Regions from separate parts of the Homo sapiens genome. Here region 2 is linked to region 1. The links come from fine-mapping of genetic effects on gene expression. A gene starts in region 1. The other region holds a variant in brackets. All regions are shown on one strand. Distances are between the middles of the regions. Region 1 holds the start of CTPS2 (CTP synthase 2). Region 2 has its middle 12 kb from the start of TXLNG.

Evidence for each region. PIP is the estimated chance that this variant, and not a neighbour inherited with it, causes the effect.
Region 2: its variant is fine-mapped to the expression of CTPS2 in cerebellum (GTEx, PIP 0.97).

What each region holds. Positions count from the first base shown.
Region 1 is chrX:16,703,089-16,719,272 of GRCh38, forward strand. CTPS2 (CTP synthase 2) reads right to left here and starts at 9,581. Exons shown (of 19, transcript NM_175859.3): 1 at 9,247-9,581. RefSeq lists silencers at 9,034-9,303, 9,364-9,453.
Region 2 is chrX:16,765,966-16,782,149 of GRCh38, forward strand. It overlaps the pseudogene RNU7-56P. Among named protein-coding and RNA genes, the nearest start is that of TXLNG, 12 kb to the right of the region's middle. RefSeq lists enhancers at 5,513-6,038, 6,039-6,564. The variant G/A (reference allele first, on the strand shown) is at 10,120.

The DNA.
Region 1 (16,184 bases):
AATCATGGCTCACTGTAACCTCTGCTCGCTGGGTTCAAGCGATCCTCCCACCTCAGCATCCTAGTAACTGGGACTATAGGTGAGCACCACCACGCCCTGCTAATTTTTGTGGGTTTTTTGTAGAGACGGAGTTTCACCATGTTGCCCACGCTGGTCTCCAACTCCTGAGCTCAAGCAATCCACCTGCCTCAGCCTCCCAAAGTGCTGGGATAACAGGCATGAGCCACCGCACCTAGCTCAGAATTTTTTTTTTTTTTTAAGAGACAGTGTCTCCCTATGTCACCCAGGCTGGAGTGCAGTGGCATGTTCATAGCTCACTGCAACCTTGAACTTCTGGGCTCAAGCAATCCTCTTGCCTCAGGCTCCAGAGTGGCTGGGACTACAGGCACGTGCCACGTCTCCCAGCTAATTCTTAAAACATTTTTGTAAAGACAGGTTCTTACTATGATGCCCTGGCTGGTCTCAAACTCCTGGGCTCAAGCAATCCTCTTGCCTTGGCCTCCCAAGATGCTGATTACAAAAGTGAGCCACCATGCTTCGTCTCACCAAAATTTCAAAAGCACACAGCAGTTTTCTGTCCAAACTAAATACTTGAATTTTTTGAAACAAAGTCTTATCTTCTAGGCTTTTTATTGTTGTCACTATACAGAAAGCTGTAGATACCTTCTGCAAGCAAAGTGCCTAGGTCTGTTGCCCTGGGTTTCCAAAGACCTCAACTCTATCATGCAACAAACTTCATCATGATAAACCAAATTTCTCTAGGATTCACAGGCATGCTAAAATGTTTAAGAGCTCAGACTCCAGTGTCAGACTGATCTGTACAAACTGTACCTGGGCAAGTTCTTTTTTTTTTTTTTTTCTTTTTTTTTAGACAGGGTCTCACTCTGTTGCCCAGGCTGGAGTATAGTGACACAATCTCGGCTCATTGCAACCTCCACCTCCCCGGTCCAAATGATTCTCATGCCTCAGCCTCCCAAGTAGCTGGGATTACGGGCATGCACCACCATGCTGGGCTAAGTTTTGTATTTTTAGTAGAGATGGGATTTCACCATGTTGGCCAGGCTGGTCTCGAACTCCTGGTCTCAAGTGACCACCCACCTCGGCCTCCCCAAGTGCTGGGATCACAGGCGTGAGCTACCACGCCCGGCCTTGGGCAAGTTATTTATCCTTTCTGTGCCTATTCCTTCATCTGTAAAGTGGAAAATATACAACAATCTCTAGGAATATAATTTGGTGTTAAAAAAAAATGGGCTACCAAGCCATGAAAAAACATGGAGGAATCTCAAGTGCATATTACCAAGTGAAAGAAGCCAATCTGAAAAACATACATACTGTATGACTTCAACTATATGACATTTTAGAAAAAGCAAAACTAGAGAGATAGTAAAAAGATCAGTGGTTGTCAGCGGGTAGGAGGGAGAGAGGGATGAATAGTCACAATACAAAGGAATTTTAGGGCAGTGAAACTATTCTGTATAATACTGTAATGATGGATACATGTCATTACACATTTATCCAAACCCACAGAATGGACAACAGGAAGAGCGAACCCTGATGTAAATAAACTACAGACTTTCCGCCGGGCACGGTGGCTCACACCTGTAATCCCAGCACTTTGGGAGGCTGAGGCGGGCAGATCACCTGAGGTCGGGAGGTCAAGACCAGCCTGACCAACATGGAGAAACCCCGTCTCTACTAAAAATACAAAATTAGCCAGGTGTGGTGGTGCATGCCTGTAATCTCAGCTACTCCGAAGGCTGAGGAAGAGAGAATCGCTTGAACCTGGGAGGCAGAGGTTGCAGTGAGCCGAGATCAGGCCATTGCACTCCAGCCTGGGCAATGAGAGCGAAACTCCGTCTCAAAAAAACAAAACAAAAACCTATGATCTTTAGGCAAAAATGATGCGTCAATGTAGGTTCACTGATTATAACAAATGTACCACTCTGCAGGTGCAGGATGTTAATAGTCAGGGAGGCTGGGCATAGCAGTGGGGGAGAGGGTGTATGGGAACTCTGTACTTTCCACTGAGTTTTGCTGTGAGCCTAAAATTACTCTAAAAAAAAAAGTCTTGCCAGGTGCAGTGGCTCACTGCACTCCAGCCTGGGCAACAGAGCGAGACTCTGTCTCAAAAAAATAAAAAATAAAAACTGTTTTTAAATAAGCAATATTAAAATAATTACAACTCATCTAGCTCACAGATGCTGACTGACTGAGTCCTGTTACACCAGTCAAAACTACAGCTTTTATTGGACAAGAGACTGATTTGAGTAACTTTCTCCTGATAAGACCACCAACCATGGACTGGCTCTGGCCAGTTTACAGAGGCTGTGGACTTGCGTGCCTTCATGTCCTGGAAAGATCTTTTGATGCATAGGGCTTAACTGAAATTCATTTAAATGTTAAGTCTCCATCCCCAAAGTGAACAGGGGTCATATGCTATTTTCATGTTTATTCAATACACATGAGTCAGGACCACCTTCATGAATATTCATAGCTCCTCCTGTAACCTGTTGAATATGTATATTTAGCCAACCCATTCAGCATAAAACTGAACCCTCCTTCAGAGTGCCTGCCTCTGGTTTTGGGAGGCCAAGGTAGGAGGGTCACTTGAGGCCAGAAGTTTGAGAACAGCCTGGGCAACATAGCGAGACCCTGTCTCTTTAAAACGTGTGCTTCCCAGCCTGTGGGATGGCCCCTTTGCAGGCTGTTACAGCCTGCAAAGAAATAAAGTAAACCAGGCGTGGTGGCTCACCCCTGTAATCCCAGCACTTTGGGAGGCCGAGGCAGGTGGATCACGAGGTCAGGAGTTAGAGACCAGCCTCACCAACATGGTGAAACCCTGTCTCTACTAAAAATACAAAAATTAGCTGGGTGTGGTGGTGCACACCTGTAATCCTGGCTACTAGGGAGGCTGAGGCAGGAGAATGGCTTGAACCCAGGAGGCGGAAGTTGCAGTGAGCCGAGATTGTGCCACTGCACTCCAGCCTGGGTGACAGAGCAAGACTCTGCCTCAAAAAAAAAAAAAGAAAGAAAGAAAAGAAAAGAAATAAAGTCACCAGGCACAGTGGCTCACGCCTATAATCCCAGCACTTTGGGCAGCCAATGCAGGCAGATCACTTAAGATCAGGAGTTCGAGACCAGCCTGGCCAACATGGTGAAACCCTGTCTCTACTAAAAATAAAAAATTAGCCAGGTGTGGTGGCAGGCACCTGTAATCCCAGCTACTTGCGGGGCTGAAGCACGAGAATCACTTGAACCTGGGAGGCAGAGGTTGCAGTGAGCCCAGATCGTGCCACTGCACTCCGGTCTGGGCAACAGAGTGAGACTCCGACTCGAAAGGTAAGAAAAATTTTGGCCAGGTGCAATGGCTCATGCCTGTAATCCCAGCACTTTGGAAGGCTGAGGCAGGCGGAACACCTGAGGTCAGGAGTTTGAGACCAGCCTGGCCAACATGATGAAACCCTGTCTCTACTAAAAAATACAAAAGTTAGGCTGGGCATAGTGGCTCACACCTGTAATCCCAGCACTTTGGGAGGCCAAGGCGGGTGGATCACCTGAGGTCAGCAGTTTAAGACCAGCCTGGCGAACATGGTGAAATCCCATCTCTACTAAAAATACAAAAATTAGCCGGGCGTGGTTGTGGGCACTTGTAATCCCAGGTACTCAGGAGGCTCAGGCAGGATAATTGCTTGAACCTGGGTGGAGGAGGTTGCAGTGAGCTGAGATCGCACCATTGCACTCCAGTCTGGGTGACAAGAGCGAAACTCTGTCTCAAAAAAAAAACAAACAAACAAACAAACAAAAATTAGCCGAGCATGGTAGTATGCGCCTGTAATCCCAGCTACTCGGGAGGCTGAGGCAGGAGAATCACTTGAACCTGGGAGGCGGAGGTTGCAGTGAGCTGAGATCACGCCACTGCACTCCAGCCTGGGCAACAGAGTGAGACTCTGTCTCAAAAAAAAAAAAAGAAAAGAAAATGTTTTAAAAAAGAAAGTCTCCTTTCTAAATTTATAGATCTTGTGATTTTTAAGTTGACAGTCATAAGGAAAATTTATTTGACTTTTCTGCTGCTTTCTGATTCAAACCCTTTTGTTTTATAGGAAGCCCAATAACTTGATTTTCTTTACTTTGAGTACTATTGTTTTTCCCTTGAGTGTGTACAGGGGCCTTCTGCTCTTGTAATTTCACCATGTATGTGAAAGTAGACCATAAACAGTATTATTTGTGTACTCATGGCAGGCAAATGGGCAACTGAGTAAGACCACAATATAAAATTACAGTTACAGAAAAAGAAAAATAATGCCAGGCATGGTGGCTCACATCTGTAATCCCAACACTTTGGAAGGCTGAGGTGGGAGGATCTCTTGAGGTCAGAAGTTCGACACCAACCTGGTCAACATAGTGAGACTCCCTCTCTACAAAAGAAAAATAAAACATTAGCCAGGTGTGGTGGCACACACCTGTAGTCCCAGCTACTGGGGAGGCTGAGGCAGGAGGATTGCTTGAGCCCAGGAGGTCAAGGCTGCAGTTAGCCAAGTGATTGTGCCACTGCACTCCAGCCTGGGTGACAAAGCAAGATCCTGTCTCAAAAATAAAAAGAGAGACCAGGTGCGGTGGCTCATGCCTGTAATCTCAGCACTTTGGGAGGCCAAGGCGGGCGGATCACCTGAGGTCAGGAGTTCAAGACCATCCTGGTCAGCGTGGCGAAACAATGTCTCTACTAAAAATATAAAAAGTAGCCGGGCGTGGTGGCGTGTGCCTGTGGTCCCAGCTACATGAGCTGCATGGGAGGCTGAGGCAGGAGAATCACTTGAAGCCGGGAGGCGGAGGTTGCAGTGAGCTGAGATCACACCACTGCATTCCAGCCTGGACAATAGGGTGAGACTCGGTACCAAAAAAGAAAAAATAAAAAGAGAGAGAGAGAGAGACAGTAACTAACAAAAGGTAATAACTATAAATTTCACTTTCATTTGTAATTTCACAATTTTTTTACATACTTGGAAATTCAGCACAAATGCATTCGGGTAGGAACAATTTCAGTTACCCACTTCTTATTTGTCCTCCTCAAAGGAATGCCCATTCTGATTTTGTGGTTTCCTCTGCTTACCTTTCAAAACAAACTATCTTAACTAAAGTTATCACACGTCAGAGCTGTGAATTCCATTTGAACTAGCTGACCATGGTCAGGCTGAGTAAACTGAAGCTATTCAAAATATACATGTTCCATCCCAGATGGCCTCCCTAAGTCCCTGGGCCTACCTTTCTCTACACAACACAGTTGATCACATTCAATGCCATCGCACATCTTCACTAGTCACCAGGGCACCCACCTATCTGACCTATGTTTATAGCTTAAAACATTGTCAATCCAAACCCAGAGCCAAGATCACACCATTGCACTCCAGTCTGGACAACAGAGTGAGACTCCGTCTGAAATAAATAAATAAATAAATTATATATATACATATATTACATATATAATGTTTATTTGAACATCTATTACATGCTTGACATATTTCCAAGTCCTAGGAATATGGAGATAAACAAAAAGACAAGGTCTATGTTCCACTGGACTTCACCTTTCCTGCAGGATTAAGGGGCAAATAAACTGTGCTTTAATTATACCTTATTCTGGCACTGTTATACTGTTCAAATGACTCTCTTTGTAAAAGTTACCGAAATGGAAAAATGCCGTAGAGGTATGGTGAAGAAAACTGGCATACATTCGTACAAGTCACATTATGCCTAATAAATTTTTGTATAAGAAAATGCTTCTTTGGGAGGCTGAGGCAGGCGGATCACCTGAGGTCAGGAGTTCGAGACCAGCCTGGCCAACATGGTGAAACCCTGTCTCTACTAAAAATACAAAAATTAGCCAGGCGTGGTGGCAGGCGCCTGTAATCCCAGCTACTTGGGAGGCTGAGGCAGGAGAATCGCTTGAACCCGGGAGGCAGAGGTTGTAGTGAACCCAGATAGCACCATTGCACTCCAGCCTGGGGGACAAGAGCGAGACTTCGTCTCAAAAAAAAAAGTTAAAAAAAAAGAAAATGCTTATGTGGCCGGGCACGGTGGCTCACGCCTGTAATCCCAGCACTTTGGGAGGCCAAGACGGGCGGATTGCCTGAGCTCAGGAGTTCGAGACCAGCCTGGGCAACATGGGGAAACCCCATCTCTACTAAAATACAAAAAATCAGCCAGGTGTGGTGGCGTGCACCTGTAATCCCGGCTACTCAGGAGGCTGAGGCACGAGAATTGCTTGAACCTGGGAGGTGGAGGTTGCAGTGAGCCAAGATTGTGCCAGTGCCCTCCAACCTGGGCAACAAAGTAAAACCGTGTCTCAAAAAAAAAAAAAAAGGAAGAAAGAAAATGCTTATGTTACCTGAAAAAGAGAGCAGACTATAAAATTGAATATATTATTGACTATGTTTTTTTAAACTAAGATCTAAATTTTATTTGTCACCACTAAGATTTCCATCTTATGGCCGGGTGCAATGGCTCACGCCTGTAATCCCAACACTTTGGGAGGCCAAGGCGGGCGGATCACAAGGTCAAGAAATCAAGACCATCCTGGCCAACATGGTTAAACCTTGTCTCTACTAAAAATACAAAAATTAGCCAGGCGTGGTGGCACCCACCTGTAGTCTCAGGTACTCGGGAGGCTGAGGCAGGAGAATCACTTGAACCCAGGAGGTGAAGGTTGCAATGAGCCAAGATCGTGCCATTGCACTCTACCCTGGTGACAGAGTGAGACTCTGTCTCCAAAAAAAAAAAAAAAAAAAAAAAAACAGATTTCTATCTTAATTTGGTCAAAGATACACCATGTTATGTCTTAATATATTTAGGTGATTAGGTTGTATGTGTTGGGGCTCAGAAAACAAAACCCAAAAATGAAGGCCTCAGAAGCAAAGTTTCTCTCTGACCTTCTCCTGCCCTCCTGTCTCTCACCCCTCATACTCCCCCAAGGCAAGTCATAGAAACTAGAACCCTTTTCCCCCCAAAGCCAGCCATAAAGCCAAAAAATATGACTCTAACCTTCCTCTCAACCACCTTTCTATACAACAGCTGGCCATAAAGAAATTAAGACCCTCATTCCAAAGAGGTCCTACCCCATACTGGGGAGGAAGAAACGCTACAACAGAGAGGCCAAGAAGAATGTGGACAGGCTTTGCTGGGTTTCCCCACTCAGTCTATTTCCATTAGCTCATCTGTCCCTGCTTCATGGACTCCAAGCATAAAATCAGATCATTTCCCTTGCATCTTTAAGGGGTTTTCATTTCTGAAGGCTCCCATGTCACATAAACCTATGATTCAATAAATTATTATGCTTCTCTCTTGTTAATCTGTCTCTTGTTTAAGGCTGTCAGCCGTGACCCTTATGATATCAGCTCTTTCCTCCCCTACATAAGCAATTGCTCATTTTCTGTTTTTTCAAAAACACAAGATACCTTTTTAAAGCACCTTGGATATTTTAGAGACCTTTTGTAAAAATGCAACTTAATACCAAGGGGACACCTAATTCTTCCTACTTTGTTGTTGTTGTTGTTGTTTTGAGTTGGAGTCGCGCTCTGTCACCAGGCTGGAGTGCAATGACACGATCTGGGCTCACTGCAACCTCCGCCTCCCGGGTTCAAGCAATTCTCCTGCCTCAGCCTCCCAAGTAGCTGGGACTACAGGTGCATGCCACCATTCCCAGCTAATTTTTGTATCTTTAGTAGAGACAGGGTTTCACCATGTTGTCCAGGATGGTCTTGATCTCTTGACCTCGTGATCCGCCCACCTCGGCCTCCCAAAGTGCTGGGATTACAGGCATGAGCCACCATGCCCGGCCCTCTACTTCTTTTAAGCACACAAGTAAGTTTAACAAAGTTTCAAAGGTTCAGGGAAAGGCTGGCCCTGTTTTAGATCACTTCCTCCATTGAGGATTGTTTCTGGTGTCAAGACAAGTTTTTCATTTACTCTTACATGCAGTGAGCAGAACCAAGTGTTTATAGGATAGCACAGTGTAGAGCTGTGCTGTCTCCACTACCTAATAAAAAATATTACACAGCCAGGTACGTAATTTTAAGTTTCTAGTAGCCATATTAAAAAAGTAAAAAGAATCAAATGAAGTTCATGTTAATATATGTTATTTAACCCAATGTAGCCAAAAATGTTATCACTTTTAACGCACAATGTAAGAATGTATTAGTGAGATATTTGACATCTTTTTTGTGTACTAAGCTTTCAGAAATCAGGTGCCTGTACTCAGAGCACATCTCAGTACGGATTTTGCCACATTTCCAGTATTCAATAACCACATGTGACCAGTGGCTCCCACATTAGACCAGGCAGGCCTAGAGCAAATAAAAGCACCGGAAGCACCCAGAGACACCTTCTCAGTGATGGCCATTTAAAAAGTAATGTTAGACACAAAAGAGTACTTACCTGATGATCTTGTTCTATGAAGTTCTAGAACAGTCAAAGCTAAGCTATGATAACAATCAGAACCGGGGTTGAGTGCGGGGCCTGGGGTGGATTGACAGAAAGGAGGTACCAGGGAACTTTGCAGGGTGAAGGAAATGGTCAATGTTCACTTTGGGATAATGGTTACAGGAGTGTATAATTTGTCAAATCCCGTCGATTTGCACACTGAAAATGGGACATTTTGTTGTATATAAACCATACATACAATTCTTTTTTATGTTGCCCCCAAAAAAGCTATTCTGTAGCAGCAGCGTAGTTCGGCACTATGCGCCCTAACCATCTAGTACGGGGAAAACGCGGGGGTCGTTGTTTAAGGGGTGCACTGGGACCGGGGAGAGGACAGAAAGGCCATGTTACCGGCGCTGATCACCAGCCTCGCAGACCCCCGCTCGGGGCTTCACTTCCGCCAACGCCATCTCAGGGCTCTCCTGGCTCCCGAGGGCCGGGAGAAGTGGGGATCCGGGTGCGGGCGCTGGCGCGGGCGGAGGCGGGAAGAAGCGCGTCCCGGGGACGCGCGGGACAGGCTCCAACCGCACTGGGCACGGGCCAGCGTTCCCCAGTCCCCGCGCCACACCCGGCAGCCGAGGTCTGCGAGCGCGGGGCTGGCGGCCGGACCCGACTCAGCGCTGGGCAGGGAGCCGGCGCCATCAGAGAGCGGACAAAGGAGCCCGGCCCCACAAGTGCACCGGGGCTGGGGGTGCAGGGCGGAGAGGCCCTGGGGACGAGGGATGGCCCGGGCGCCGAGGCCCTGGGGGTCTGGGACAGGCCCAGAAGGGAAGTTACCTGCGCGGTGGTGGTAGCACCGGGGAGGGTGGCCGGTGGGCACGGCGGGCTCCACCCCGCGGCTGGCCTGGCGCTCACCTGTCGGGCTGGGGAAGGGGTCGCTGCCGGGGCTGTCCAAAGCCGCCCCCGGGATCTTCCCACCGCCCACACGGGCCTCGGGGTGCGCGGCGCCCTCCTCGCCCACCTTCCCCTCTCCTCCCTGCTGCTGGCCCAGCTCACTCACGCTGGTGAGCTTGGGGTTTGCACCCGGGTTTGTGCAATGGTCCAAAACAAGCGCCTAAAAAGTGATTCCTCCAGCACAGGCAGCTCCCGTCACCCTCCGCTCTGGACGCACTGGGCCCCAGGCCTCGCCCAGCCCGGGGACCGCTCCTCCCTCCCGTGGCTCACTTTGCAAAGGCACTTCGAGTGCGCGGGTGAACTCCACGCTTCCCGGGGAACCCCGGCTTCCTGGCAAGCCGAGACCCTCGCTCGGGTCCTCCCGTGCAGATCTCACCCTTGTAAAGAACTTCACTGGTCACAAACGCTTGTGGATCCCCTACTACGCCCCAGGAACTGCAGGAGCGCTCAGGAGAGAAGGAAAAGGAAAGAGAATGCCTGCCTTTGAGGAGCTAGCTCACAGTCTGGTGGGAGGTCCACCCGTCTGTTGGAACCAGTAAGGTTCCCTAGAACAATACTTCTGCAGCAAAGAGTTGCGGGGGTGCAGTGAGGGGAGGAAGGCAATTAAGGCTTCCAAGAGTGACTTTTTTTTTTTTTTTTTTTTTGAGACGGAGTTTCGTTCGCCCTTTTTGCCCAGGCTGGAGTGCAATGGCGCGATCTGGGCTCACTGCAACCTCCGCCTCCCGGGTTCAAGCGATTGTCCCTGCCTCAGCCCCCGGAGTAGCTGGGATTACAGGCGGATGCCAAAAAGCTCGGCTAATTTTGCATTTTTAACAGAAACGGGGTTACATCACGTTGGCCAGGCTGGTCTCGAACTCCCGACCTCAGCTGATCCTCCTGCCTTGCCTCCCAAAATGCTGGGATTACAGGCTTGAGCCACTGCACCCCGCCCAAATACTCTAAAAAGTCACTCTTCGGGTGACTCACGCCTGTAATCCCAGCACTTTGGGAGGCCAAGGCAGGCGGATCACCTGAGGTCGGGAGTTCGAGACCAGCCTGGCCAACGTGGTGTAACCCTGTCTCTACTAAAAATGCAAAATTAGCCAGGTGTGGTGGCACCTGCCTGTAATCCCACCTACTCCGAAGGCTGAGGCAGAGAGAATCGCTTGAACCTGGGAGGCAGAGGTTGCAGTGAGCCGAGATCAGGCCACTGCACTCCAGCCTGGGTGACAGAGGAGACTTTGTCTCAAAAAAAAAAAAAAAAAAGAGTATTGGAGGATGATTGGTGCTGGGAACGGATACAGGAGGTTTTTCGGGTGAAGGCAAGAAGCCAACCACTGAAGGAAGCTAACATGGACAACAGAAGGGTCTGAAGTGAGATGGAAGGTTTTAGGAAAGTGGTGGAAATTTCGCATAACCAGTGTGAGATGCTAGAGCGACAAGTTAGACAAGAGTCACTGAAGACCTAGTGGAGTTTAGAAACCATCATCGTGTAGTGGTGTCCAGCTATAATCTGCTATAATCTGGCAAGGTATCTACAGAAATATAGCTCTTAGTTATGAAACCCAAGTTTCCTGCTTGCATAGAATAGAAGGACAAGAGGGTGAGGAGGTGGAGGGCACAGAAAGACTGCGATTGCAGTGATGGGCCAGAGCTCTAGTCCTAGAGGACAGGAACTGTTAATAAAACCAGCGGGGAGCTGATGGACTGGGAGACAGATGAGAGAAGGGCTCCAAGGCCAGGGCCTCTGAGGAGAGGACTGGCAAACTGGCAGCAGAGAGTGTGGTGCTGGAGTTCAGGCCTTCAAATGGATATTCCAGGAAATGAGACAGTTTGGGGTGTGGCAGCTACAATGGAATAGAAAAGTGAGATGGGCATCACTGGCCTTGGGTTTAGTGCCCACAAGGCTGGTATGTTGGACATCGAGGGTCCCAAAAGGATGGCAGGAGGTGGAGGAGTCAATCGAGGTCAAGGAACTTTAGAGAATTGGGGTTGCGGGGTGGGTAGTGAGCCTGAAACTAATAGATGACTGTGACAAGGAAAGGGAGAAGGTTGCAGAACAAATGTCAGTGCCTTTCAAGACACAATGGAGGCCTGGCGCCATGGCACACCCCTGTAATCCCAGCACTTTGAGAGGCTGAGGCAGGCAGATAGTTTGAGTCCAGGAGTTGGTGACTTACCTGGACAACATGGCAAAATCCTGTCTCTACAAAAAATACAAAAATTATCACGTGTGCTGGCATGCATCCCAGGGGAGGCTGAAGCAGGAAGGTCGCCTGAGCCCAGGAGGTCAAGGCTGCAATGAGCTATGACCGTGCCACTGCACTCCAGCCTGGACGACAGACTGAGACCTTGTCTCAAAAAAAAAATCAATTAATTAATTTAAAAAAATAAACACGACCAGGCATGGTGGCTCACCCCTGTAATCCCAGCACTTTGGGAGGCCGAGGTGGGTGGATCACGAGATCAGGAGATCGAGACCATCCTGGTTAACACGGTGAAACCCCGTCTCTGCTAAAAATACAAAAAATTAGCCGGCCGCGGTGGCGGGTGCCTGTAGTCCCAGCTACTCAGGAGGCTGAAGCAGGAGAATCTCTTGAACCCGGGAGGTGGAGGTTGCAGTGAGCCCAGATCGCGCCATTGCACTCCAGCCTGGGCGACAAGAGCGAAACTCCATCTCAAAAAATAAAATAAAATAAACACAATGGAGTTTCTCCCCACCAAGGATGAAAGAACAGTGTTGTGGAGGAAGCAGTAAGGAACTTGGAACAATGATGTCAATTTCTGGGAAAATAAGCAGACGCTTCACTCAGCAGGGTAGCCTTGGGGGAGATCCAGGTCTCCATGGGTGTTGGGGGGTCCAGGGGAGGGACAAGGAACCACCTTGTCAAAAGGCTAGAGGCATAAACAAGTCTTCCAGAGGGCTCAGGGGAAAGAATGTTTGTGAAATGGGTTGGTATGGGTGCTAATACTTAATACCTGCCGCATATGTAAGGTTTCCTTCCACAGTTCCGTCTTTCATTATCTTTTTAGAACCAGGACAGTTGTTATGATCCCCTTTTTAGAATGAGGGACCTGAGGTTCAGAGATGTGAAATGTCTTGACCAAGGGTACGTTAGTTAATATGAGTGGCAAAGCCAGGACATCAATGCACAGCCAGACTCCACCACAGGATGTGAGGCCTGATCCAATTGTCCTATTCTATTCATCCATGAGGCTAATGGATAAAAGATAATCTGTATATACAAAGGGCTCATTATAATAACTATTGTATTATTAATCTCAAATGGGAAAAATAATGAGCTGGAAAACAAATTTGATAACAGGGTGTGGATTGACTGAATTGTGTGGGATAAGGATGTATCCTCATTCAACAAGTGTCAGTTCATGGCCCACCACCAGCATAACATCTTGCTGAATCCGCACAAGATGATTTTTTTTTTTTTTTTTTGAGGTGGGGATTCATTCTTGTCGCCCAGGCTGGAGTGCAATGGCATGATCCCAGCTCACTGCAACCTCCACCTCCCGGGTTCAAGTGATTCTCCTGCCTCAGCCTCCTGAGTAGCTGGGATTACAGGCGCCCACCACCACGCCCGACTAATTTTTGTATTTTTAGTAGAGACAGGGTTTTACCATGTTGGCCAGGCTGGTCTCGAACTCCTGACCTCAGGTGATCCACCTGCCTCGGCCTCTCAAAGTTCTGGGATTACAGGCATGAGCCACCGTGCCTGGCCAGATGATTTTTTTAAAATGAAAATGAAGCCCATCATTAAGTTGATTGCTTATGTTCTTGTTTTGTAATCTTTTTTTTTTTTCTTTTTTTCAGTCGGGGTCTCGCTCTATCACCCAGGCTGGAGTGCAGTGGCACGATCACAGCTCACTGCAGCCTCCAGCTCCCAGGCTCAAGCAATCCCCCTGCCTCAGCCTCCTGAGTAGCTGAGACGACAGGTGCAAGCCACTACACCCAGCTCATTTTTTATTTTTTGTATAGACAGGGTCTCGTTATGTTGCCCAGGCTGGTCTCAAACTTCTAGACTCAAGCAATCCTCCCACCTCGGCCTCACAAAGTGCTGGGATTACAGGCATGAGCCACTGTGCCCAGCCTAATCTCTTATTTTTAAGAATTCTACCTTTCAGAAGAGTTGTAAAACTGTCTATCCCTTGGTGACCACAGTGTTCACCACGATTTTGAGTGTACCTTAAGATAAAGCAGAGTAAGGCTGAAAGGGCTGGGCCCTATCTCTGCTGTGGGAAGGACCAGCACTATACTTCTTTTGCAAGTGAGGGAACTTGAGGGGCAAAAGGATGAGTAAAACGTCAAGTTTAGGCCGGGTGCGGTGGCTCACTCCTGTAATCCCAGCACTTTGGGAGGCCAAGGTGGGTGGATCACCTGAGATCAGGAGTTCGAGACCAGCCTGGCCAACATGGTGAAACCCCGTCTCTACTAAAAATACAAAATTAGCCAGGTGTGGTGGCAGGTGCCTGTAATTCCAGCTATTTGGGAGGCTGAGGCAGGAGAATTGCTTGAACCCAGGAGGCAGAGGATACAGTGAGTCGAGATTGTGCCACTGCACTTCAGCCTGGGCAAGACAGAGTGAGACTCCGTCTAAAAAAAAAAAAAAAGTCAAGTTTATTCACCTACTAGATGGTGGAATTAGAAGCCCATCCTAGGCTTCTCACTCAAATTCCAGGCTCTGTTCAATCATACTTGAAGCAAATATCCTATTCCCGAAAGTCTCAACCACTTTCAGGTTCTCATTGACTTAATAAAGCCTAGAAAGGCATTGATCCTAAGACATCTCCTGACTTCAAAGCTGAATCAATACTTGGACTCTAAAAACAGGCTGGAATGTCATCAATGCCACTGAACTGTACACTAAAAAAAATTTATTTTTACTTCAATTTAAAATATTAATAGTGTAATACACCAAAAATATATACCATTGAATTGTACACTTTAAACAGGTGAATTGTTTAAATCTCAGCTGTTTGGGGGAAAGAAAAAAACAGGTTGGGCTTGATAACCTAAAATCCTGGACCTGAATAAAATATAAATATAAGTCAGGCTGGAAAACTGGACAGCAGGGAAATCAGAGTTGTAATCAATTCCTCATGTATTCCCTCAGGTCACCGGAACTGTCCTCCTCTTCTCAAAATAGTTGGGGAGCAAGGAATCATGGATGTCCTTCCACAATTAATGACTGAAGACTGTGCTTGGGAAATGTGTCCATGAACTCCCTGCTCTGAAGGGGTAGTTATGCACATCACTAGTTTTTTGTTAGTTTTACATGTTATTGTGGGAAAAGTTAAAAATATAAAAAAGACAAATGTTTAACTACCCAGCTTCAACCCATGGCCAGGCTTGTTTCATCTATATCCCCCCCCATTCCCCCCACCCCCATCCTGTATTAATTTGAAGCAAATTCCAGACGTGGCATCATTTCTTTTTTTCTTTTTCTTTTTTTTTTTTTTGAGACGGAGTTTTGCTCTTGTCATCCAGGCTGGAGGGCAATGGCAGGATCTCAGCTCACTGCAACCTCCGCCTCCTGAGTTCAAGTGATTCTCCTGCCTCGGCCTCTCGAGTAGCTGGGATTACAGGCGCCCGCCAGCACACCCAGCTAATTTTTTGTATTTTTAGTACAAACGGGGTTTCACCATGTTGGTCAGGCTAGTCTCAAACTCCTAACCTCAGGTGATCCACCCATCTCGGTCTCCCAAAGCGCTGGGATTACAGGCGTGAGCCACTGCGCCTGGCCCAGATATGGTATCATTTCTTTGGTAAAATCTCAATATGTGCGGTGGATAAACAGATGGATAAACAAAACGTGGTGTATACATACAAGGGAATACTATTCACTCTTAAAAAGAAATTGACACAGCCTTGAGGACATTATACTAAGTGAAAGAAGCCAGTTACAGACAAATACTGAATGATTCCACTTATATTAAGGTATCTAGTCAGATCCATAGAGACAAGAAGTAGAATGGGGGGAGGAGGGGGATGACAAGGACAGGAATGGGGAGTTGTTTCATAGGTAGTTTCAGTTTTGCAAGATGAAGTTCTATTTTTCTTTTTTCTTTTTTTTTTTTTTTTGAGAATGGACTCTGCAACCTCTGCCTCCCGAGTTCACGCCATTCTCCTGCCTCAGCCTCCCTAGTAGCTGGGACTACAGGCGCCCGCCACCACGCCCGGCTAATTTTTTTCTATTTTCAGTAGAGACGGGGTTTCACCGTGTTAGCCAGGATGGTCTCGAACTCCTGACCTTGTGATCCTCCCGCCTCGGCCTTCCAAAGTGCTGGGATTACAGGCGTGAGCCACCGCACTCGGACTATTTTTCATTCTTTTAATTGCAAGATGAAGAGTTCTGAAGATTGATTGCTCAACAATGTAAATGTACTTAACAGTACTGAATTGTACACTTAGAAACGGTTAAGATGGTAAATCATATTAAGATGGTAAATTTTGTGTATTTTACCACAATTAAAATTTTGTAATTTCACAATTCCTTAATTTTATCAACTACCCAGTGTCCAAATTTCCAGTTCTTATAATAAGTATCATACTATTTTTTTCAATGTGTTTGCTGAATTAGGATCCTAATAAAATGCACAAGGGGCCATGTGTTACATCTCTTAAGTCTTTTTTAATCTATAGGTTCCCCACCACACTCCTCTCTTCCTTGCAATTTATTTGAAGAAACAAGGTTGTCTGTCCTGTGGCTTCTCATAGTCTAGATTCTGCTGACAGCATCCCATTGTGTTGTTTAACACCTTATTCTGTCCTCTTATTCCCTGTTGGGCTTGGCGGCTTTGGGTTAGTTTTGAATTGGGCTCAGGAGGAG
Region 2 (16,184 bases), 63 kb after region 1:
GCTAAATAATATGCCACTATCAAAGGAGTGTGGCACAAGAACACTGTATTGATGCCACTAACAAAATTGTTGAGTGTTCATTGTTAATTGGAGTAACAGAGTACATGCTTGTGAAATTGAGGCATGAAAATAGATACTATTTAAAATCTGGGGCCAGGTGCGGTGGCTCACGCCTGTAATCCCAGCACTTTGGGAGGCGGAGGCGGGTGGATCACAAGGTCAGGAGTTTGAGACCAGTCTGGCTAACACAGTGAAACCCCATCTCTACTAAAAATACAAAAATTAGCCGGGTGTGGTGGTGTGCACCTGCAATCCCAGCTACTCGGGAGGCTTAGGCAGGAGAATCACGTGAACCCGGGAGGCAGAGGTCACAGCTGAGGTCGCACCATTACACTCCAGCCTGGGTGACAGTGTGAGACTCCATCTCAAAAAAAAAAAAAAATCTGGATAACACACAAATGTAATTAATAAAAATAGGCCAGGCACAGAGGCTCACACCTGTAATCCAAACACTTTGGGATACCAAGGTGGGCGGATCACTTGAACCCAGGAGTTTGAGACCAGCCTGGGCAACAGGGTGAAAGCCTTTCTCAATTAAAAAAAAAAAAAAAAGCCAGGCGTGGTGGCGGGCACCTGGAGTCCCGCTACTCGGGAGGCTGAGGTGGGAGGATGGCTTGAGCCCAGGAGGAGGAGATTGCAGCGAGCCACAATCAGGCCACTGCACTCCAGCCTGGGCGACAGAGCCAGACCCTGTCTCAAACAAACAAATAAATAAATAATAATGAGCTTGTGATGGATGTCTTGATGTCCACATTACCATGCTTTTAGAAATGGACTAAACCAGTCAATCTCCTGGCAGCGGGTAGTCATCCTCAAGCGTGGCCGCACAATAGGACCTCCTGGCAAGTCCAGGTGCTACTGATGCCCAGGCTCCCCTGCAGAGATACTGATTTATTTGGCTGGGGATGTAGCCCTTGAGGGTACAGGGTTGTTTGAAACTCTCCAAGACTTTGTAACAGCAGCTAAGATTGAGAACCACGGGGCCCAGGGAAAGAGACTCAAGTGGAAAGTCAGGAGACTTGGTGAAAATACTCAGCCTGACACACTCAAGCTTCTTTATCAGTACAATGAAAGGGTTGGACTGCACGTTTTTTAACAACCTATGTCTAAAATGTCATCCTATTTTTAAAGAGGCCTTTGTAAAATAAATACTGTTTTAGTTCTGTTTTCAAAGTGGGGTTTTGTTTTTTAGTTTTCTGAAATGTACAATATCTTAGGTTCTCACATAAATATATGCATGTATCTCCACTCCATCCACAAACCCCACTGAATGACAGTAAAGGAATGAAAAGAAAAGCTATACATTCATAGTGACAAAAACAGAAGGGTCAGCAACAGCCAAGTGATACCAAGAACATTTTCATGCTTCAGAAGCCTGGAAATGCTCAGGAATTCTGGAGGTGCAGTAACTCGGAAGGCTGAGGAAAAGTTGGTATCAGGGTGGGCAATTTGTGGTCTCTGCCACAATCTACAACTGAAAATCAAGGGCAAGTGGCGTAAGCATATTGTTATGAGACACAGACACAAACAGACAAAATTGCTAAGTTTTAAATGGCTCCTGAGAAGTGGGAATTGGGGATGTGAAATGGCCTTTGCAAAAAGTGTAACAGTGACAAAGTTATGGCAGTGTGTAGATCTGACCTAACTGACTCCATCTTGCTTCTGTGTTCATTCCTGGGCATAGGCCAAACTAACTTTGGGAAGAACTTTAACTTTGACATAAAGATTGTAACAGCCCTTTCCTGAAACAAACCCCATTCTTGCATGGGAACCACACTGCCTTTGTAGGACTAACACATGAGCCACAATATTATGGTTTAGTGTCACAGCTGTTTTAGAATTTATCTAGCAGGTTTTCTGGTCTTTACTGGAAAGCCCAAGAAAGTAAAAATAGCCGGGTGCGGTGGCTCACGCCTGTAATCCCAGCACTTTGGGAGGCTGAGGCAGGCAGATCATGAGGTCAGGAGATAGAGACCATCCTGGCTTACACGGTGAAACCCCATCTCTACTAAATATGCAAAAAAAAAAAAATTAGCCGGGCGTGGTGGCGGGTGCCTATAATCCCAGCTACTCGGGAGGCTGAGGCAGGAGAATGGCATGAACCCAGGAGGCGGAGGTTGCAGTGAGCCAAGATCGCGCCACTGCACTCCAGCATGGGCGACAGAGCGAGACTCCGTCCAAAAAAAAAAAGAAAAAGAAAGTAAAAATAATAATAATAATAATAAAAGAAAAATAGCCCGGGCACGGTGGCTCATGCCTGTAATCCCAGCACTTTGGGAGGCTGAGGCAGGCAGATCACCTGAGGTCAGGAATTCAAGACCAGCCCAGCCAACTTGGTGAAACCCTGTCTCTACTAAAAATACAAAAATTAGCCAGACATGGTGGCAGGTGTCTGTAATCCCAACTACTCAGGAGGCTGAGGCAGGAGAATCGCTTGAACCTGGGAGGCAGAGGTTGCAGCGAGCCAAGGTCGTGCCACTGCACTCCAGCCTGGGCAACAAGAGCGAAACTCTGTCTCAAAATAAATAAATAAATAAAAATAAAAAATAAAAAAATAAAGAAATTATGGTTCTGGAGTCTTGCAGCTAGAGGCCACAAGATTCTAAACCTCCTCAATTGCTCCTAGGGATAACATCACTACCCACTACCATAAAACCTAAGATTAGGTGCTGAAGATATTTTTCAGTCCATGGATTAGCTGGTGCCACCCAGATCAATAAACTGGCTCATCTGGTGTTGTGGCCCCCACCCAGGAACCGACTCATTGCTAGAGCACAGCTTCGACTGACCTCCTAGGATTTCATCTCTGACCCGACCAATCAGCACTCCCCACTCCTTAGCCCCATACCCACCAAATTATCCTTTAAAAACCTCAGTTTCCAAATCTTCAGGGAGACTGATTTCAGGAATGTGAAACCCAAAAATCTGAGACAGGCCTCAGTTAATTTAGAAACTTTATTTTGCCAAGGTCGAGGATGTGTGCCTGTGACACAGCCTCATGAGGTCCTGACAACATGTGCCCAACGTGGTCAGAGCACAGCTTGGTTTCATACATTTTAGGGAGACATGAGACACCAATCAACATATGTAAGATGAACATTGGTGTGGTCCGGAAAGGCGGGACAACTGGAAGCAAAAGCGCACAACTCGAAAGGGGAGAGGGCTTTCAGGTCACAGGTAGATGAGAGACAAACCGTTGCATTGAGTTTCTGATTAGCTTTTCCAAAGGAGGCAATCAGATATGCATTTATCTCAGTGAGCAGAGGGATGGCTTTGAATAGAATGGGAGGCAAGTTTGCCCTGAGCAGTTCCCAGCTTGAATTTTCCCTTTAGCTTAGTGATTTTGGGGGCCCAAGATATTTTCTATTCACAGTAATAATAAAACTCCGGTCTCCTGTTCAGCCAGCTCTGTGTGTATTAAACTCTATTGCAATTCCCTTGTTTTGATAAATCGGCTCCATCTGGGCAGTGGGCAAAATGAACCCATTGGGTAGTTACAAAGAGAGAAGCACTGGTCAAGGGTCTCTGTTGTTTTAAAAGCCTTGTGTAATTTGACTTCTAAAATTAAGGACATGCATCTTTTTTTTTTTTTTTTTTTTGAAACGGAGTCTTGCTCTGTCGCCCAGGCTGGAGTGCAGTGGTGCGATCTCGGCTCACTGCAACCTCCGCCTCCAGGGTTCAAGCTATTCTCCTGCCTCAGCCTCTCGAGTAGCTGGGATTACAGGCACCTGCCACCATGCCCAGCTAATTTTTGTAGATTTCTTTTAATACCTAATTTTGACACGGGTATGGGGAAAAAGCATAAAAATACTGTAGATGGGAGTGTAAAATTGTTAAATCTTTCCAAATGGCAGTCGGGTAACAAGCATCAAAATGTTAAATGTGAGGAACATTTAACCCGACATTTCTACTCTTGGAATTTATGCTAAGGAAGCAATTAGACAAGCAAGACTTTGAGTATACAATAGAAAAATTGGCAGGTACCTATATGTCATACACCAGAATCTTGATTTGAACAAATGGTGGTTCATCCACATGATGGAATTGTGTGCAAATATTTTAAGTGATATATTTTATACCCACCAGATGGTCAAAAATGTAGAAGTCTGAAGGCTGGGTGCAGTGGCTCACGCCTGTAATCCTAAGACTTTGGGAGGCTGAGGTGGGCAGATTGCCTGAGCTCAGGAGTTGAAGACCAGCCTGGGCAACATGATGAAACCCCATCTCTACGAAAATACAAAAATTAGCTGGGCATGGTGGTGCGCGCCTGTAGTCCCAGCTGCTTGGGAGACTGTGGTGGGAGAACCACTTGAACCTGGGAGGCAAAGGTTGCAGTAAGCCGAGATCGTGCCACTGCACTCCAACCTGGGTGACAGAGTAGACCCTATCTCAAAAAAAAAAAAAAAAAAAAAGTAGAAGTCTGAAAATATCAAGAGTTAGTAAGCATGTGAAACAACAGGAACATCGACGTGCTATTGGCGCAACTATGCACTGGCACAATCTCTTTGGAAGTAAGCCAAAACTGGCATTACTTCAATGAAAAGTTGAATATGTACTTCTCTTTGCCCAGCAAGCAGTTCCTCTCCTAGGGAATACCAAATGGTATTAACCACTTATGAAAATAACTACCATTACTTAGTAAAGTGGAAGATAAAAACATCATATGGCATGTGCTAGTAGGTGGCACATGCACGACTGTCAATAAAAGTGATGTTCTAGTGACCTCAGGCTGCACCCAACCCAAATGTGCATCAACAGTAGAATGGAATTATAATGACAGTGTGATAACCATAGCAAAGAGCCAAGAACACGAAAAAATAACAGCTGTGCACAGTGCTGTGAGTGAATCTATGAATCTCATAAATGTAATGTTAAACAGAAAATGCAAGATTGGAGAGAAGACCTACGTAAACTCCAAATACAGGTACAACTATACTACATATGTAGTAGAACTAAAAGAAACAGCTACCATAAAAGTCAGATATTACATAGCATAAGAGAAATCAAGAAACTACAGCTACATAAAACAAGGAGAAGACAGGTCCCAACATTACACACCTCAATAAAACACCCAGTTAAAACTCTACTCACTGGGCCTGGTGGCTCATGCCTATAATCCCAGCACCTTGGGAGGCCAAGGCTAGCAGATCCCTTGAGCCCAGGAGTTCTATACCAGCCTGAGCAACATAGTGAGACCCCATCTCTAATAAAAATACAAAAAATTCACCAGGTATGGTGGCATGCACTTGTAGTCCTAGCTACTCGGGAGGCTGAGATGGGAGGATCACTTGAGCCTGGGAGGTCAAGGTTGCAGTGAGCTGTGATTGCACCACTGTACTCCAGCCTGGGCGACTGGGCAACTGTCTTAAAAAACAAACAAACAAACAAAAACCCAACAAAGACTGTCTCAAAAAACAAACAAAAAACCCCCAACAAACTCTACTTAGTTTTATTTTTGCTTAAATCTTTAATAAAAGGGAAAGCCAGGCACAGTGGCTCATGCTTGTATCCCCGCTGTGGGAGGATCACTTGAGCCGAGGAATTTGAGACCAGCCTGACCAACAAAGTGAGACGCTGTCTCAAAAAAAAACAAATAAAAAAAAACAAATAATTAAAATGTAAAAATAAAAAACTAGCTGGGCATTTACCATTGTGGCAAGAGGGTGGTCTAAGCCCAGGAGGCCGAGGCTACAGCGAGCCATATTTGTACCACTACAATGCAGTGTAGGTAGCAGAACAAGATCCTGTCTCATAAAATAGTAACAGAATTAAAAAAAAAAAAAAAACGACTAACTCTATTAATCTAAAAACAAGAAAAAACAACAGCAAGCTTGGAAAGGCAGTTGCCAGGTAACAGCCACCTCTGGTACACTGAGGGTGAAATTAAGCCCAGCTCAAATACATACAGCACTTCTTTCAGGCGAATGTGTAAGGAAAAGTATCATTCTTCAAAACAGCAGGTTTAAAGGACACCTACGGCTTTTAACTTGTAAATATATTGCATGCAGTGCACCATGGTTATGCAAATGAAGCTGAGTCATTGCCCTATAGATTAATGCCGTAGCTCCCAAGCATGGCTGCAGCCTGCAAGGTAGGGAAAAGGCCCAGTCCAGAGTCCACCCGGGAAACTCAACCAATTTGTTTTGTTCACCGATGCCCTGACTGTGATTTCTTTTGGATAAAGGATTTCTTGAATGCTTTCAAAAATGACGTCCAAGCGCTACATTTGACATAAGAGAAGGTTCACAATATAATGTTAAATGAAATATAAAAGGCAATTTACAAAAATATTTAATACGATTACACTTTTTCTTCCAAAAATGCCCGTGTATGTGTGTGTTGGGCATGCTTTTGTGTTACCGGTGGAGGGTGTCCACGTTCTTGGCGTTTTGAACAAAGAATTGGACAAAACGCACAAAGCAAGGAAAGAATGAAGCAACAAAAGCAGAGATTTACTGAAAACAAAAGTACATTCCACAAGGCTGGAGCAGGCCTAGTACAGGGGCTCAAGAGCCCCAGAATTTTCTGGAATTTAAATACCCTCTAGGGGTTTCCCATTGGTTACATGGTGTACACCCTATGTAAATGAAATAGCGGCCTGCAATCAGTCTGTTTGGTTGTGGAAAGCAACCAATCAGAGGATGAAGTGTAGTTACAAAGTTACACTCACTCCTATGCAAACGTCTGATTGGCTACAGAAAGCAACCAATCAGGCTGGGCGTGGTGGTTCACGCCTGGAACCCCGGCACTTTGGGAGGCCAAGGCGGGTGGATCACCTGAGGTCAGGAGTTTGAGACCAGTCTGGCCAACATGAGGAATTATCTCTACTAAAAATAAAAAATTTAGCTGGGCGTGGTGGCACGTGCCTGTAATTCCAGCTACTTGAGAGGCTGAGGCACAAAAATCGCCTGAACCTGGGAGGCAGAGATTGCAGTGAGCCAAGATCGTGCCACTGCACTCCAGCCTGGGCCACAGAGGTAGACAACTTCCCCACCCCCCTAAAAAAAAAAAAAAAAAAAAAAGAAAGAAAGAAAAGAAGGCAACCAATCAGAAATGCTTTCAATTTTCCATCTGCCGCACAGAAAGGTGGGGTGGGGGTGGGGTGGATTTGCAAAGGGAGTAGTTTACAATCCTTTTGTTATTTACCTGTGGAAAGTTGGGATGTTCCTTTTGACTTAGTTTTTTTTTTTTTTTTTTTTGAGACGGACTTCACTCTTATTGCCCAGGCTGGAGTGCAATGGCACGATCTCGGCTCACCGCAACCTCCGCCTCCCGGGTTCAAGCGCTTCTCCTGCCTCAGCCTCCTGAGTAGCTGGGATTACAGGTATGCGCCACCATGCCCGGCTAATTTTGTATTTTTAGTAGAGACAGGGTTTCTCCATATTGGTCAGGCTGGTCTCAAACTCCCGACCTCAGGTGATCTGCCTGCCTCGGCCTCCCAAAGTGCTGGGATTACAGGCGTGAGCCACCGCGCCCGGCCATTGACTTAGTTCTAGAAAGCCAGCTTGAATCGGCCTTAGGTTCCCTGCCTCCGGACCCTATTCTCCTGCCTCATATGCATAGAAAAGACTCGGGAGGCTTACACCAAAATGGCGGCTATATCTTTTTTTTTTTTTTTTTTTGAGACGGAGTTTCGCTCTTGTTGCCCAGGTTGGAGTGCAATGGCGTGATCTCGGCTCTCCGCAACCTCCGCCTCCCGGGTTCAAGCGATTCTCCTGCCTCAGCCTCCCAAGTAGCTGAGATTACAGGCATGTGCCACCACACCGGGCCAATTTTGTATTTTTAGTAGAGACGGGGTTTCTCCATGTTGGTCAGGCTGGTCTCGAACTCCCGACCTCAGGTGATCCGCCCGCCTTGGCCTCCCAAAGTGCTGGGAGTACAGACGTGAGCCACCCGCACTTGGCCATCTTTTTTTTATATATTTTTTTAACTATTTGTGGTTATGTTTTTGGGAATTTCTGTGCTTAACATAGTAGGAAAAATAAGAAAAATCGGTAATAATTTACATTTCCTTTCCTCAGACCTGGAAGCAGGCATTTCTTCAAGGAATCTTGATTCCTTTTGATGGGAAAAGCTATTTACTCTTCAAGAATTGTCAGCCTGGCGTGGTGGCTCACGCCTGTAATCCCAGCACTTTGGGATGCCAAGGCAGGAGGATCACCTGATGTCAGGAGTTCAAGACCAGCCTGAACAACATGGTGAAACCCCGTCTCTACTAAGAATACAAAATTAGCCAAGCGTGGTGGTGGTGCATGCCTGTAATCCCAACTACTTGGGAGGCTGAGGCAGGAGAATTGCTTGACCCCAGGAGGCAGAGGTTGCAGTGAGCCAAGATGGGGCCATTGCACTCCAGCCTGAGCAACAAGAGTGAAACTCTGTCTCAAAAAAAAAAAAAAAAAGAATTGTCCTGCAGACTGGGGGCAGTGGCTCACACCAATCCCAGCACTTTGGAAGGCCAAGGAGGGAGGATCCTTTGAGCCCAGGAGTTCAAGACCAGCCTGGGCAACATAGTAACACCAAGTCTCTACCAATAAAATGAAATAAATAAATAAAAATTAGCCAGGCATGGTGGTGCATGCCTCTAGTCCCAGCTATTTGGGAGGCTGAGGTGGGAGGATCACTTTGCTACCCGGGAAGAGTGTCCAGGTTCTTGGCGTCTTGAGCAAAGAATTAGACAAAACGCACAAAGCAAGGAAGGAATGAAGGGATTTATTGAAAATGAAAGTACACTCCACAGGGTTTGAGCAGGCCCAAGCATAGCTCAAAGGCCCTGTTTCAGAATTTTTGGGAGTTTAAAAATAACCTCTACTTGAGGTATGCCCTATGTAAATGAAGAGGATAAAGTAAAGTTACAATCATTTACTTGGCCTACGCCCTATGGAGAGGCTATTTCCTGTCATAGCTGAAGTGTGAATCGGCCTTATATTCCCTACCTCCAGATCCTATTTTCCTGCCTCAACTTGAGCCCTGGAGGTAGAGGCTGCAGTGAGCTATGATCACACCACTGCACTCCAGCCTTGGTGACAGAGCAAGACTTGTCTCACAAATTAATAATTAAATAAAAAGTAAATAAAATATGACATTGATCAAAACTTCATTAGTAGTATTAGAAGACAAAGTTGAGATCATCTACAAAGTACAGATGTTTCCTGACTTATGATGGCGTTATGTTCCAATAAACCCATCAGAAGTTGAAAATATCATAAGTGGAAAATGCATTTAATACACTTAACCTGGCCGGGCGTGGTGGCTCATGCCTGTAACCCCAGCACTTTGAGAGGCCAAGGCGGGTGGATCACCTGAGGTCAGGAGTTCGAGACCAGCCTGGCCAACATGGTGAAACCCCTTCTCTACTAAAAATACAAAATTAGCCAGGTGTAGTGGCACATGCCTGTAGTCTCAGCTACTCGGGAGGCTGAGATAGAAGAATTGCTTGAACCTGGGAGGTGGAGGCCACAGTGAGCCAAGATGGTGACACTGCACTCCAGCTTGGGCAAGACAGAGCAAGACTCCATCTCGGAAAAAAAAAAAATACACTTAACCTACCAAACATCATAACTTAGCCTAGCCTACCTTAATGTAAGCTCATAATACTTTGTTTTTTTGAGACGGAGTCTTGCTCTATTGCCCGGGCTGGAGTGCAGTGAGACGATCTCGGCTCACTGCAACCTCTGCCTCCCAGGTTCAAGTGATTCGCGTGCCTCAGCCTCCCAAGTAGCTGGGATTACAGGCGCCAGCCACCACGCCCGGCTAATTTTTGTATTTTAGTAGAGATGGGGTTTCACCATGTTAGCCAGGTGTGTCTCGAACTCCTGACCTCAGGTGATCTGCCCACCTCGGCCTCCCAAAGTACTGGGATTACAGGCGTAAGCCACTACTCCTGGCCAAGCTCATAATACTTATATTAGCCTACAGTTGGTCAAAATCATCAAACACAAAGCTGTTTTATAATAAAGTGTTGAATATCTCATGTGCTTTATTGAATACTTGTACTGAAAGTGAAAAACAGAATGGTTGTATGGGTACTCAAAGTCAAATTCATACAACTTTGGCACCATC[G/A]CAACATCAAAAATTGTAACCCTGGAACTGTCTGTAGCAAAACAGGATATAGGAAAATAGAAGAGAAAAGATAAGAAACATGGAGCAGGGCACCGTGGCTCCCACTGAGGTGGGAGGATCACTTGAGTCCAGGAGTTTGAGACCAGCCTGGGCAACAGAGCAAGACCCTATCTCAATTTTAAAAAAAGAAAAAAGAAACATAAAAAAGAAATTATTAATAGGATACTATACAACTAGGTTGTGAATAATATCTACATGAAAATAATGTAAAAAAAATTAAGATATTAAATTAACAAAATGAAAACAACCATTTAGAGAGGATGATGTGATGATGGGAGGAAGTGAGCATCTGTGTGTGTGTGTGTGTGTGTGTGTGTGTGTGTGTGTGTGACTGTGAGTGAAAAAGCATAGACCCTCTTCCCTAGAAGCAAATCTATATATATCTTTCTGTGATTTCAGAATCAGCTTGATGGCAAGTGACAGAAAAATCCAGAATTACAGTGGTTTAAACTGGATGCTGATTTCTTTCTTTTTCTTTTTTCTTTCTTTTTTCTTTTTTTTTTTTTTTTTTGAGTCTCACTCTGTCGCCCAGGATAGAGTGCAGTGGCACAATCTCAGCTCACTGCAACCTCTGCCTCCTGGGTTCAAGGGATTCTACTGCCTCAGCCTCCCGAGTAGCTGAGATTACAGGCTTCCACCACTATGCCTGGCTAATTTTTTGTATTTTTAGTAGAGACGGGGTTTCACCAGGTTGGCCAGGATGGTTCCCCTTTCTTTTCTCTTCTCTTTTCTTCTCTTCTCTTCTCTTTTTTCTTTTTCTTGAGACGGATTCTTGCTCTGTCGGTGGTGCGATCTCAGTTCACTGCAACCTCCACCTCCCAGGTTCAAGCAATTCCCCTGCCTCAGCCTCCCAAGTAGCTGGGATTACAGGCACGCGCCCCTACATCCAGTTAATTTTTTTTTTTTTTAAGATGGAGTTTCACTCTTATTGCCCAGGTTGGAGTGCAATGGTGCGATCTCAGCTGACCGCAATCTCCGCCTCCCGGGTTCAAGCAATTCTCCTGCCTCAGCGGCCCAAGTAGCTGGGATTACAGGCATGCGCCACCACGACTGGCTAATTTTGTATTTTTTAGTAGAAACGGGGTTTCTCCATGTTGGTCAGCCTGGTCGTGAACTCCCAACCTCAAGTGATCTGCCCACCTTGGCCTCCCAAAGTGCTGGGATTACAGGCATGAACCACCGTGCCTGGCCTAATTTTTGTGTTTTCTTTTTAGTAGAGATGAGATTTCACCATGTTGGCCAGGCTGGTCTCGAACTACTGACCTCAGGTGATCCACCTGCCTTGGCCTCCCAAAGTGCTGGGATTACAGGCGTGAACCACCGAGCCCAGCCCTTTTCTTTTCTCTCTTTTTTTTTTTTTTTTTTTGAGACAAGGTCTTACTCTGTCGCCCAATTTGACGCTGTAGTGGGCTAGGATGAAAACCACTATACTCCAGCCAGGGTAACACAGAGAAAGAGATTCTGTTTCTTAAAACAAAATGAAACAAAAAAAAAAACTTGAAAAAATTGTTCGGCTGGGCGCAGTGGCTCACACCTGTGATCCCAGCACTTTGGGATCACAAAATACAAAAATTAGCTGGGCGTGGTGGCTTGCACCTGTAATCCCAGCTACTCAGGAGGCTGAGGCAGGAGAATCACTTGAACCCGGGAGGCGGAGGTTGCATTGAGCCGAGAGCGTGCCAACTGCACTCTAGCCTGGGTGACAGAGCAAGACTCCGCCTCAAAAAAAAAAATTGTTTTAATTGTTTTGAGACAGGGTCTCAGTTTGTCAAAACAAAAAATTGTTTTAATTGTTTTGAGACAGGGTCTCACTTTGCATTCTAGCCTAGGTGACAGAGCGAGACTCTGTCTCAAAAAAAAAAATTGTTTTGTTTTGAGACAGGGTCTCACTCTGTCACCCAGGCTGGAATGCACTGGCATGATCACAGCTCACTGCAGCCTCAACCTCCTAGGCTCAAACGATCCTCCTGCCTCAGCCTCCCAAGTAGCTGTGACTACAGGTGTGCACCACCACACTTGGCTAAGGCTAATTTTTTATTTTTTGTAGAGATGGGGTCTCCCTATGTTGCCCAGGCTGGTCTTGAACTCCTGGCCTCAAGCAATCCCCCTGCCTCGAACTCCCAAAGTGCTGGGATTACAGACATGTGCTACCACTCCTGGCCCCGAGATTTTCAATAAAGCCTAAACCTATTTGTAGTTTGTATTTTTCTTTTCCATTGTCTCTATACATGAACATTGTTTCCATGTCCTTGAAGTCTATAATTATAGGCGAGACTTGGGGAAGTATATCAAAACAAAATGAATGAATCCCAATACTCTGAAATATGCAATATACGTATTCGAATTTTTGAAACGCACATACTCTCTCCCAATAGTCCATACATGAGAAGAGTTTTTATTTTAAAAATCCTCTTTCTGCTAGAGCTGGCACCCTGGTGTGTGCCAATCTAATAGTACACTCCATAGCCTGCCATCAGTATGCCTGAGTGATCTGTGTATAAAGTATAATCATTTTCTAAATCTTTCAGTGTCTGCCAGAAATGTGGACATCTATAGCAAATGCAGAAACTGGCCAAATTCCTACAAGGACTAAAATCAGGGTTAGCTCAGAAAGATGGTATTGTGTAATCATATTAAACAATAAGCTTTTTGTTCTATGAAGAGGCAAACACTCTTTTTCACTACCTACAACCCCAATAGTATGCAACAAACATGAAATTCAACTCTTTTGATGAAACAATACTCTTGGCTGATTTAAAAGTTAGTAGGAGCTTTTCTTTCTGTGAAAGTACTCTGAGGTGGACAAGTCAGACTAGTGTGGCTAATTTAACTTCTGTTGACCCTTTAGACACAGCTCAGATGTCACCTTAAACCATCCTTAAACCTCCCCACCACCAGTAGAAAATAACCCTCAAGAGGTTACCCTGCAATACCTCCATTTTATAAATTACTTTATTGTTTGTTGTACATGTGAGTGTTCAGTGTTGGCCTGGGTACCCCTTATTCTAAATCAAGGTATGCCTGGTGACTAATACAGTGCTCCTGTTTAACTGATGAATGAAAACTTTCTATTGCCACCAAGTTTATCCTGGAATGACCTTGGTCCCTTGGCTGCTGGAGGGTCTACACAGTGTTGCAGAGGGACACTGCTGTCAGAAAACTCTCCAAGATGTCACAAGAAGGGATAGGATATCACCTTGGGGAATTGAAGGTTTGGTCCTCATCTGAACAGATTCAGAAAACAGATTTCTTAATGCAGTTACCTATTCAGGGGATCTTTTTCTCAATAAGTATGTGTGGAGAGCTTTCTCTGTGCCTGGGTTTTTTTGTTTTGTTTTTTTTTTGGTGGAGTCTTGCTCTGTCGCCCAGGCTGGAGTGCAGTGGTGCGATCTCGGCTCACTGCAACCTCCACCTTCAGGGTTCAAGCAATTCTCTTGCTTCAGCCTCCGTAGTAGCTGGGATTACAGGCGCCCACCACTATGCCTGGCTAATTTTTGTATTTTTGATAGAGGCGGGTGTCAACATGCTGGCCAGGCTGGTCTTGAACTCCTTACCTCAAGCGATCTGTCTGCCTCGGCCTCCCAAATTGCTGGGATTACAGGCGTGAACCACCGTGTGCAGACTGTGCCTGGCATTCTGCTGGGCACTGGGAATATAGGAGTCTTATGGGCACAGTCCTTGCCCTCACTTTGTTTACCATCTGGCTGGGGGAAAGAGTCAATTAGACAAACCACTGCCTTGAAGAGTGGGGACTGGCCTGGTATGGGAAGTACAGTATGCTAGGGGTACATAACACAGGCAACTAAGATATCCTGGGACCAGTGGGGCTTCCTGGAGGGATCACCCAGAGTACACTCTCTGTCAGGGAATAGGTACACATTAACCAGAGCTGCTATATAAAGTCGAATATGCCTGTAATCACAGCACTTTGGGAGGCCGAGGTGGGTGGATTGCTTGAGCTCAGGAGTTTGAGACCAGCCTAGGCAACATGGTGAAACCCCATCTCTACCAAAAATACAAAAAATTAGCCAGGCATGGTGGTGCACTCCTGTAGTCCCAGCTACTTGGGAAGCTGAGATGAGAGGATCGCTTGAGCCTGGGAGGTGGAGGTTGCAGTGAGCCAAGGTCGTGTCACTGTACTCCAGCCTGGTCAACAGAGTGAGACCCCGTCTCAAAAATAATAATGGCCAGGTGTGGTGGCTCATGCCTGTAAATCAGCACTTTGGGAGGCTGAGGTGGATGGATTACCTAATGTTATGAATTCGAGACCAGCCTGCCCAACATGGTGAAACCCCATCTCTACTAAAAATACAAAAATTGGCTAGGTGTGGTGGTGGGTGCCTGTAATTCCAGCTACTTGGGAGGCTGAGACAGGAGAATCGCTTGAACCCGGGAGACGGAGATTGGAGCGAGCCGAGATTGTGCCATTGCACTGTAGCCTGGGCAACGAGAGTGAAACTCTGTCTCAAAAAATAAATAAATAAGTAAATAAAATAATAATAAAGTCAAAATGTCCCTTTGTTAACAATGAGCAAATGTAAGTGTCTCATGGAGTTAAAAGGTACACATCTACATTCTCTCCCTGTGGTCAGACCACAGACCTGCTTCCAATTGTAGGAAGCACAATTACAATGGGAAGGTGGTTAGGTAAGAAATCAAATCAATTCCCATTGATCAAAGGTGTTAGGATAACTGGAGCCTCCATCCCCACGTAAAGGATAGCCTTACAAATAGGATGATCATTTTTGAAGTCCTCTTTTTGACCAAGATTCTTTGTCTTCCAAAAATTGCTTAGATGGGCTTTGGCAGCCTGGCCTTCCTTACTCTCTCCCTAAGTTTCTAGGTTTCCTCTCTTCTCATAGCCACATTGCTTCTTTTTTTTTTTTTTTCCCGAGACGGAGTTTTGCTCTGTCACCCAGGGTGGAGTGCAGTGGCCCGATCTCGGCTCACTGCAGCCTCCGCCTCCGGGGTTCAAGCAATTCTTTTGCCTCAGCGTCCCAAGTAGCTGGGATTAGTAGCCACCACGCCCAGCTAATTTTGTATTTTTAGTAGAGACAGAGTTTCTCCATGTTGGTCGGGCTGGTCTCGAACTCCCGACCTCAGGTGATCCACCCGCCTCGGCCTCCCAAAGTGCTAGGATTACAGGCATGAGCTACCGTGCCCAGCCCCACATTGCTTCTTTAGCTATGTTAATATCTGTGATCATATTATAGGGTATGATGAGGCCTGTAATTTACTGTCAGCAAAGATAGAGAAGGAAGAGGTGGAGGAGGAGTGTGTTGTGTTTAGAGCTGGAAATGACCCCACTTAGGACTTTATACACCAGGGGTGGTCAGGAGTCCATATTTCCTATTCTAGCCACTACAGATGCTTCTGTTAGCCATAGCTCAACCAATAACAGAGGCTTTCTTAAGTAGCAAAATGAAGGTTAGAAATGGGTTTTCTTGCCAGGCGCAGTGGCTCATGCCTGTAATCCCAGCACTTTGGAAGTTGAGGCGGGCGGATCACCTGAGGTCAGGAGTTCGAGACCAGCCTGACCAAGGTGGAGAAACCTCGTCTTTACTAAAAATACAAAATTAGCTGGGCGTGGTGGCACATGCCTGTGATTCCAGCTACTTGGGAGGCTGAGGCAAGAGAATGGCTTGAACCCAGAAGGCTGAGATTGCAGTGAGCCGAGATCGCGCCATTGCACTCCAGCCTGGGCAACAAGAGCGAAACTCTGTCTAAAAAAAAGAAGAAAGAAACGAGTTTTCTTTTTTCTTTTTTTAGACAGGGTCTCGCTCTTGTTGCCCAGGCTGGAGTGCAGTGGCACAATCTTGGCTCCCTGCAACCTCCACCTCCCAGGCTCAGGTGATCCTCCTGCCTCAGCCTCCCAAATAACTGGGACTACAGGTGTGCACCACCACACCCAGCTAATTTTTTGGTATTTTTTGCAGAGATGGGGTTTTGCCATATTGCCCAGGTTGGTCTTGAACTCCTGGAGTCAAGCGATACACCCACCTTAG